Regions from separate parts of the Homo sapiens genome. Here region 1 is linked to region 2. Evidence: fine-mapped expression QTL. Tissue or cell type: ovary. Region 2 holds a variant in brackets; the other region holds the start of a gene. All regions are shown on one strand. Distances are between the middles of the regions.

The links. PIP is the estimated chance that this variant, and not a neighbour inherited with it, causes the effect.
Region 1: CEP290 starts here. The variant in region 2 is fine-mapped to the expression of CEP290 in ovary (GTEx, PIP above 0.99). The same link has a PIP of 0.9 or more in ileum.

What each region holds. Positions count from the first base shown.
Region 1 is chr12:88,138,969-88,144,128 of GRCh38, forward strand. CEP290 (centrosomal protein 290) reads right to left here and starts at 3,120. Exons shown (of 54, transcript NM_025114.4): 1 at 2,932-3,120; 2 at 2,238-2,366; 3 at 1,988-2,065; 4 at 527-596; 5 at 177-223. The coding sequence starts at 2,339. It overlaps TMTC3 (transmembrane O-mannosyltransferase targeting cadherins 3), which reads left to right and starts at 3,339. Exons shown (of 14, transcript NM_181783.4): 1 at 3,339-3,519. RefSeq lists enhancers at 2,960-3,399, 3,206-3,709.
Region 2 is chr12:88,104,974-88,110,310 of GRCh38, forward strand. It overlaps CEP290 (centrosomal protein 290), which reads right to left. Exons shown (of 54, transcript NM_025114.4): 23 at 4,093-4,208; 24 at 2,023-2,125; 25 at 1,702-1,932. Among named protein-coding and RNA genes, the nearest start is that of CEP290, 34 kb to the right of the region's middle. The variant A/G (reference allele first, on the strand shown) is at 2,722.

The DNA.
Region 1 (5,160 bases), 34 kb after region 2:
GTCCTTAGTACTATATAAGGCACATAATAGGCATGTAGAACATATACAGAATAAACAAATAACCATGATTACAATCATCCTTATAATTTTTCCAGCCAACAATAATTTTAAAATTTGAAAACAATTCAAAATAAAATTAATGACAATTACATCCTAGGGAATACAAAAAGACATACCTCCAGTTCATTTTCCAGTTTCATTACTTTAGTTTTTAATTGATTTTCTATTTTTTTAAAAAAAAAGAAAAACGTTTTAATTGATTAGTTACCACAAAACAAACTTTTAAATAAATTTCAATAACAAAATTAATTCTTTTAAAAGAGTCCATCATGATTATAAGGTAACAAAAAGTATTATATGGCAGATCCATAAAATAGGAGTCTAGAAATATTTATTATTAAATGTTATATATTAAAAATAAACTGAATATATATATTTTATAGAATATAATTTAATTTTCTACAGTTTAATGAACAAATGGAATTCATTATTTAATACCATAATAAACTTTTTCCAAGGTGCTTACCAAATTTTGCTTGTTCTTCTCCAGCTTTTTCTACTTCTTCCAAAGCCAGCTCCACTTCTTGAGCTTTCATCTAAACATTAAAAAAAGGTTATTTCAATATGCCTTTATACTGGAATGTAAGCACTGAAAATAAAAATTCTGTTTTATTTGTTATGATCCTTAGTGCCAGCAATGGCTGGCACATGGAGACGTTCAGTAAATATTTGCTGAATAAATAGTTTTTGGTTTTTGTTTTTGTTTTTTTTGCTTTTGAGATAGGGCCTCACTTTGTCACCCAGGCTGGAGTGCAGTGGCACAATCTCAGCTCACTGCAACCTCCTGCCTCCTGGGCTCAAGCAATCTTCCCATCTCAGTCTCCTGAGTAGCTGGGACTACAGGTGCATGCCATCATGCTTGGCGTGCCATCATGCTTGGTGTGCCATCATGCTCGGCAAATTTTTTCGTACAGGCAAGGACTCACTATATTATCCAGGCTAGTCTTGAACTCCCAGGCTCAAGCAATCCTCCTGCCTTGGCCTCCCAAAGTGCTGGGATTACAGACGTGAGCCACCATGCCAGGCAATTTTCTTACTTAAGACTACAATTTCTAGATTTTTAATAGCATGAAACATTTTTGATTCTCCTTTTTACCTCAAGTCCTCAAGTCTTATATCCAGTAATGCAACATCTCCCTTTGTAATGTCTTTCCACTACTTTTTTTCTGTTCCAATTGCTATTATTCTAATCCATAATTTCAGGTTTAAACTCCGCTATAATGTGATGTCTACAAAGCTCCAATTTCCTTCAGTTTGTCCTACATAATATACTCAGTTTTGCCTTCTTAAGGTGTATTTTTGTACCTATCAATTGTGTTTCGAAAACCTTTACTGCCTTCTCAATTGCTGATAGCATAAAATACACCTTTAAGGCCCTCAACAACCTATCTCAAAGTACTTACCCAAGATTTGTTTTCTCTACAGTCTGCTACAAACTTGCTGCACCTTGTTTCCTCAAATATAAAGAATAAACATATTTCCTGTTCTCAGTATTTATTTATGGTAACCAACAGCTCTAGAATTCCCTTACTATCTTACCACTGCATTGCCTTCCACTTATCTAACACTACTCCTCAGTATTGATCCTTTGTGAAGTCTTCTGACATCTCTTAAATCATTTCCCCTCTTAACAAATCCCTATAGCAGTCATTGTCTGCATTTGTCATTTGGACCTCAAGATATATTTCCTTATGTTACTTTTCAACATACTCATTCTATTTCCCCTACACACCCTTTTAGAAACTTTAAGTAGAAACTAGCAATGTTTTATACACTAAAATACTTAATTCACATTTAAATATATTGCATTTTTTAGTGGTGATGTAGATATTACCAGGTATTTTCACAAAGATTACCTTATATAAGAACAGATTTTTATAGTTCCACTAATAGCCAAACCTATAGTTAAAACCTACTACATACAAACCTTCATTAGTGACTGAGTAATTCTGAAAAGGTGTATCACATTTTCTTGCTTTTCACTTTTTAGCTCATTTACTTCCACCTAAGTAAACAGAAAAGCAACTGTTTTATATTTTATAACCTTCAAGCAAAATATAAGAACACTTCCAGATTGTGACAATTATAGTTGTCCCTGAAAAAAATAAATTCATATTTTATTAATAAATTAATCATAAGTTAATGTATATATCTATTATTATTGACCAATTAAGCACCTTGGATAAGGAAATCAATAAATTATCTGCCAGTTCTTCTTGACGGGGCAGGTCATCTGGGTCAACTTTCATTATTTCTTTCCAGTTTATATTAGGTGGCATCTTGAATTCTTTCACTGTGCTCCACCTCTGTAACAAAACAGGTGTATATTAGCATTTTCAAGGTACACAGTATTATTGGTTTTCTAGCACCTTACATTTTTTGCAGATTATTTCATTATAACTTTCTGATGTTAGCAAAACAGACAATTGGGCCACAAAATAGACAAGTGGGCAAAATAGCCTTGATCAAAAATAGCAGTCGGCACAAACTGTCAGAGTGTCCCGGCTAAATAAAATGTGACGGCTTCCTTGCTAACACTAATCTAAGTTAATACTTAAGATTTCTGGATCCCTTCCTCCACACCCCTACCCACAATGCGCGCGAACACCCTAATCCTGGCAAGCGCGAGGGTCTGTGGAAGGCCGACAATCATCCCTGATTTGGAGAAACAGAATTGGGGCTGAAAAAAAACGCAGAAATTAACATTTGGAATGAGTGAAGTTGTGCGGCGGAAACTGGAACCGAAGCAAGGCAGTATTAGGGACCCGAGGCTGGAAGGGCGGGGTAGCTATGCTGTGGCACACGGGCCCTCAGGCTAAAGAACCTGAGCGTGGAGTGACTCGCTAATCCTGCTTACAAGGATCCACCCACCTAGACCAAGCCTGGCAACCAGCGGAGGCCTCTCACTACCGCAACCACCAAGCTGGACCCGGCCGCGGGCCCTGACAGATCCCTATCGCGGTTCCACGCGGACTCTGGGTCCAGCCAAATGGTCCCGAGCAAGCCAAAGCGGCAGCGGCTGCTAGGCGACACCATCCCCAACTCCGCCAAGGCCAGAATAAGATCCCGGATGCCAGGAGAGCCTACAGTTCACGACCGTGGGTGATGCTTTACGTTTAGATTCTCCGCCGGAGTCCCAGAGCTCGGTGTTCAGGATGATGAGAAGGCGTGGAACGAGGACTTCAAATCCCAGAGTGCAGTTCTGCCTGAGGCTTCTGCATGCTGGGAACTGAAGTCCCTGAGAAGAGGAGGTAAGGCGCTCCCGGCATGCAACGCGTAAGACTGCGACGGTACCGGGGCGGCGGGGAAGGACCGAGAGGCGGGAGGAGCAGCGGCTCAGGCGCCTGCAAACTGGTGGCCTGAACGAGGTAGACCATGACTGTGGTTTCAGTGGCGTCACTCGCTGGGCTGCTCTTCCTGAGGTTTTCCTAAGCCATCCCCTGGCGGAACCGCCCCCAGGTGAGGTCGAGCTGTCGGTCAGCATATTGGGAGGAATTGAGGGGAGCAGTCCTGGGTTAGAGAAGCTTCTGCTATTGGGGCCGTAGGGCCTGGTCCCATTCTGAAAAAGTGGGAACACCCTGCCTTCTCTTCAGGCGTTTGCAAGCGGCGTCCAGGGTAGTGCCTTCTGTAAGAAGGAAAAAACAAAAAGTTTTAGCCTTGTTTAGTATCAGAATCTGTCTTGATAGTTAGAGTGAGAGCCGCGCAGCCGTGATCCTCGTTTGGGGGCGAGCGAAGAATTGACAAGAGGTCTCGGCATCCCGACCCCGCCCGCCTTACCTGTAGCACCATTCCTTTCGCGGATCGTGGGGCTTGATGGTTGTGGAGCTAGTATAAAGTCAAGGCTCTAGAGAGGAGAGGTTAGTACTTGTCCGGACCACTGCCGGGGGTGGAGAGAGAAGGGATCCAAGGACTCACCTGTACTATTGTTGCCACTTGCTTGGTTACCTAGGGTGCCCTTCCATGAAAGCGCCTTCTCTGGTGTTTACCACTCTTACTCGTGCAAGTTTTGCTCATCCTGCTCGTCTGCTCACAATCATGCTGGAGTATGATACATCTCTACCTAACTTTCCTAAGAAGCTGTAGACTTAAATCTAAATGACATTTCCAACTATCTGGACCAGTGCTTTGTCTTTTTTTTTTTTTAAACGCTGCTTTAAAAAAAAAATTACTGTACTTGACAGTAAATTTTCCTTTCGAAAATAAGTAATGAGTTTCTTTTTAAACCCCCAATTTGGGTAAAATAAGTAGCTCAGTACAAAATAAAAAGATACTGATTTTGTGAGATGAATTTTAAAGACATTAGTTAGATTTATAGGAATGACAATTTTACTACTTTTCTGAAAGATTATATGCCAAATACTATTCATTATCTTGTTTATTCTTCCTTACAATCCAGTGAAATAGGTGCTTACATTGTCCTCATTTTCCATCTGAGTTAAGAAACTGAGGCTTGGAGAAGCTAAGTAACTTAAATAGTGTGATTGAACACAGATCTCTCTGGCTGGAGGACATATTCTTAACTTCTATACACCTCCTCAGACATTCTGGGAAACCAATATTTGTGAAGTGCTTGTTCCTCAATCTTGCTATTTTTATTAAATGTTATATTTTAATTTTGTAAGTGTTTACTCAATAATTTGAATTAAACATTCTTCATGTTCAGTGTTCTTAATTCATAATTTAACATGGGATGGTGTTTCTGGAAAGGTGTTCTGATCTGGACCCCAGGAGAGGGCTCCTGGATCTCGCCAAGAAAGAATTGGAGGTGCATACACCCCCATTGGAGGTGGTAGACTAAGGATTGTTATAGTTATTTCTTGATTATATGCTAAACAAGGGGTGGGTTATTCATGAGTTTTCTGGGAAGAGGGTAGGCCATTCCTAGATCTGAGTGTTCCTCCCCTTTTTAGACTATATAGAGTAACTTCTTCACATTGCCATGGCATCTGTAAACTGTCATAGCACTGGTGGGAGTGTCTTTTAGGATGCTAATGCATTATAATTAGTGTATAATGAGCAGTGAGAACGAGCAGACGTCCCACCTTTCTCGCCATCTTGGATTTGGTGGGATTTGGCTGGCTTCTTTACTGCATGCTGTTT
Region 2 (5,337 bases):
CTCATGGTTTAAATATATACATATTTTTCTAACTTGTCTACTGAGAGACTAGTGGCAATGATACTCTGAGAGCAATGATGCCCAGTGGCCAGTTTTTGGTATCTAAATGCCTTCCCCACTAAAAGGAACCTGGGCTCTTTAAAGAAATGGTTTATTCCAAGTATGGGCATGAAGTATGTAGGTAAGTCTAAGACATCTTATGCTAGAAAACAAGTCAAGCTTTGAGGCTTCGTTCAAAAGACTAATGAATTTTTGTCAAGACAATATAAGAGTCAACTTTAAAGGACTCTCTTTGGCTAAAGTTGAGACAAAAGAATATGACTCCAACTAAAACACATGGAATATTTAAAAATCTGTGAGTCTAATCTGATACTTAAAAAAGAGAAAGCGGAGGGGACAAAAAAAGCAGGTAGTGCAGAGTACACCAAGTGTGTATTCTGAAAACTGGTAATTAAAGAGAAAAGCATTTATCTTGCCTTTGTAGTAGGAGCTAAACTTCAAGATAAACAAATAGCCTGGGCTAATGAGGAAACGCTATTTATTTTACAAAAGCATGTCTGTTAATAAATGTAAGTGCATAATATAACTAGAAAATTATGATGTTTGCAACTTTTAATAATTGGGTTAGGCAACAATCATCAGCAGATGCTAAAATCATTAGGACTGACAAATAATTTGTTATTTGTATGGTACCAAAATATCACCAGTTAGCTAAATTGCTTAATAATGGAGGTATATGGTTATCTTTTCTTCTTCTTCTTCTTCTTTTTTTCTTTTAAGAGAGAGACTCGCTCTGTTATACAGGCACATAGGCTGGAGATCAGTGGCACATGATCACAGCTCACTGCAGCCCCCAACTTCCTGGGCTCAAGCGATCCTCCCACCTCAATGTCCCAGGTAGCTGGGATTACAAGCATGTGCCACTACACCAAGCTAATTAAAAACAAACAAACAAAAAAAAAAACATTTTTTGTAGAGACGGAGTCTCACTATATTGCCTAGGCTGGTCTGGGCTCAGGAAATTTTCCTGCCTGGGCCTTCCAAAATGTTGGAATTATAGGCATGAGCCACCATACTTGGTCTGCTTGTCTTTTCCTTAACAGAGTAATCAATTACAAAACATGGAACAACCAGATACTCTTGAAGTGATGCAATATAAAGTATAGAACACTACTTATGAAGTATTCTTGCCAAAAATGTTTAAACCTGAATGTAACTTAGGGTTCTGACCTAACTTTTAGTAATACAAGGGACACAGGAACAAGTAAAATGACACACACACAAAAGTTAGATACATCTTCAAACATTTTTTGGAGAAAAAGAAAACCAAGGGGATTCTATATTAAAAAGATTTATGAGATGTAACATCCAAATGCTTATTCTTTGATCAAAAAATGTAAAAAATGTGACTATAATCAGGGTATTAGGCGATATTAGAAAATTACTGTCATTTTGTTAGGTATAATAAAGTTACTATGGTTAGTTAAAGAAAAAAGCCTTTTTCAAAAGGGTACATTAAATATTTAGGGGAGGAATGTCTGCAATTCAAACATCCCACAAAAATCAGAAGAAGCAATTATGACAAAATGTTAATAAATGTTAACTATTAATTCAGGTGATGAGCATTATTGATACCATCCTATCTTCTGCATATTTGAAATTTTTCATAGTCAGAAAAAGCAAAATAAGAATCAGATGTACCTTAAATCTTTGCAAACACCCAATTTTTTCACAAACTTCAGCCTCCATTGACAACAATTCATTCTTTTGCTTCTCATTTTCTTTTCTAAGTTGTCGCTCCAATTCTACTAAGGTTGTATATTGCCTTATAAGTGATTTTTCATTCACTTGCAAAACAGTAATTTTCCTACTATTTTCTGCAAGTATTTTTTTCATTTCATCCGAATCCATCTGAAGAGCATTGAGCAAATTCTGCACAAAGACACATCCATATTACTTGTTGAATCTAGCTATCCTACTTTGTACAATATTGCATACTAATGTTAAAAATGTTTTACTTACATTATATTCTTTTACTTTTATAGCATCTTGTTGGACTTGATCCTCAAGTTTTCTCTTTTCCTCTTTTATTGTTTTAGATTCTGTTTTCCAGGTCTCCTTTTCACTAAAAACAAAACAAAACAAAAAGACAATACTGTAAACCTAATAAAATGTTTATAAGAAAAGATAACTTCAGATTATGCAAATTTAAAGTTTTCTCAACACAAGAGGTATCATAGCTATTCAGTATCTGAAAACACAAGAAGTTAAACTTTCATTTAAAAAGGGTTTAGCCTAGAATTAAAAATTTTTTAAATAAATGCAAGGCAACAAAGTTATCAAATTATTTTCATTCTTCCCTGATTCACCACTAAATGGGTTATAATATAATTGAAGCTGAATCTTATAAACATTTTATTGAACACAGAAAAAAAGTAGGAAAATAATACCCTATACTAATTCTAGAAATCAAATTCCAACATTCTGACCCCACTCTCAAATTTGGGTGTTAAATGCTTACAAAATAATTTGAATACAAACACATCTTAAGTCTAATTAAAATAGTGACCAAAGTTAATAACAGTATATTATATACTTTAAAATTGCTAAGAGAGTAAATTTTAAGTGTTCTTAGTGCAAAAAAAAAAAAAAATAAGAAGAAGTATGCTGTAATCCCAGCACTTTGGGAGGCCAAGGTGGGCAGATTGCTTGAGGCTAGGA[A/G]TTTTGAGACTAGCGTGGACAATATGGCAAAACTCCGTCTTTACCAAAAATACAAAAATTAGCCAGGCGTGGTGGCACATGCCTGTAATCTCAGCTACTTGGGAGGCTGAGGCAAGAAAATAACTTGGACCCAGGAGGCAGAGGTTGCAGTGAGCCAAGATAGCGCCACTGCACTCCAGCCTGGGTGACAGAGCAAGACTCTGTCTCAAGGAAAAAAAAAAAAAAGTATGCGAGGTAATACATATGTTAAGTAGCTTGATTTAGCCATTCCACAGTATATACATATATAGAACACCATGTTGTATAGCATAGTATATACATATATAGAACACCATGTTGTATAGCATAGTATATACATATATAGAACACCATGTTGTATACCATAAATTCTTGTGAATTTAAAAAGTAATTTAAAACATATTTATATATAAATTATTTTTTTGAAGTTGTGTAAGACACTGTTGTCTACACATGAGCATTCCACAAACATGTGTAATGTTCTTGGCATAAACCCAGTATAGCGGTATCATTCTCTTTGCAACTGAATGGTTCAGACTTGGACATGTGATCCAATTCTAGCAAATGAGATCGGAGTCAATGTCTGCCAGGTATCACCAGAAAAAAATGTTTATTTAAAAATAAAAGCTATGTAGAAAAAAATGCTCCTCTTCTTCAATGGGCACATCATCTTTCTTGAATTCATGCAGCTATTTTACAACCATCATAGGCGATAACAACAACCTTCAAATATGACCTGCCCTACAACTAGCTTTGTGGTTCTGGTTAGGTCAGATAATAATTATTCTTAGTGTTTAAATCACCTTTGATTAGGTATTCTAATTCCTATTAAGGAAATCATTCTATTGATTTAGATGAGATGACAGAAATAAGGAGAAATATGTTAGTTCCCTATAAACATATATGAACAATGATGATTGTGATGATGATGAATGATGCTAACAACAGCTAACATTTACAAACTGTTCATATGTGCCACACACTAGTCCGAGCATTTTCATCTAATAATTCATTTACGTTTTACAATAATCCTATGAAAAGGGTATTACTTACAAAGTAACTTACAGATAAGGAAACTGAGACACAGATAGGTAAGATGACTTGCTCAAGCTCTTACAAAAAGCAAACGTTAAATGACTCAAACCCAGGCAGGATAATCCCAGGCTTAATGTAATCATTAAGCTACACTGTCTCCATAAATAAGTTCCTAACAGTAGTTACCAGAGTAAAAAAAAATACAATTGCAAAGGAAGAAGAAGAAGGGAAGAACAAAACATAAATTATTCTTACGTTACTTTCACAATTAACAAGAATATACTGCAATTATATTTATAGTTTTGCTAATACCTATACCTTAGGTATTCTTTATACAACAAACTTTGTTGATGACGAATTACAGCAAATTTTCTGTTGTAATCTTCAAGAGAATCTTCTAAATTCTTTAACTTTTTTTCTTTATTTTCTAGTTCCTGAAAAGTGGTTTAGAAATAAGAATGCAAAAAAAAACACAATAGAATAAATGCTGAATTTGAAAGTATAAATTCATATTCTGACAACATTATAGGAAAGTTAAAAGTCACCAAATCTGTAAGCAACACAGATCATTTTTCCATGATATTTTGAACACTTTAGTTTAAGGCATAAAAAAAGAGTACTATACAACAGGTAAAGTTATTTTTAGCACACAAATTACCAGATTACAAAGTTTTATTAGATAGAATAGTTATAAACTCGCCTCTAGTCACTCGGCCACATACCCTCTCTTATGAACACATAATTTCATACCCTCACTCAAATTATCCTTTCCAATTATTTCATTTTAAAGATGAAATTGAAATTTAAATAACTTACTCAATATCCAAAAACTCATTAACACTACACTTGGCAATCATTTTTACCAAGTACATATGCTAGGCTTGTTGTCAGGTGCTTTCCATATACATGGATCCAACATTTGAGTTTGGGTCTGTCTGACTCCAAAGGTCTTGCCACGTTTATAGCTCTATACAGCCTTAGGATTGAGAGTCTAAGTACCTGTTTTGCCACTTTGGACAGCTTTTCAGACTCCCAGTTGGTACTCTCTAATCTACTACAAACTTCTGATATATTTCTTATACAAAGATTAAAAATCATGAATTTTATCTCAAAAAATACGACAATGCCATACTACCAATATTTGCTGATAGTGTTCCTATACCTCAGGTAAATAAGAGAAATAATAATGTTAAAATTATACATTTAAAAATAATAATATCACATACAAAGCAATATTCTAATAAGTAGTTAAGGCTGTCCTTAGACAACATAAAATAATAATAAAAATCCCAATATTGAGAAAAAGATGAATTACTGTAATTTCCAAAATAAAAATGAGTACTTAATAATTATAACTCAAGTATACTCACAAATGGATCACCTAGCAGAGAGAAATAGTGGCCCATATAATCAAAAATATATTTTCATTGATTCTGAACATATATTTGTAATTATATTTATAATGTATGTGATGTTATAGATAGTCAAATTTCAAATAAAATAATGAAAAGGATCTGTCATTAGGACATTCATAACGACCATTATATAGACAGCAAAACTGAG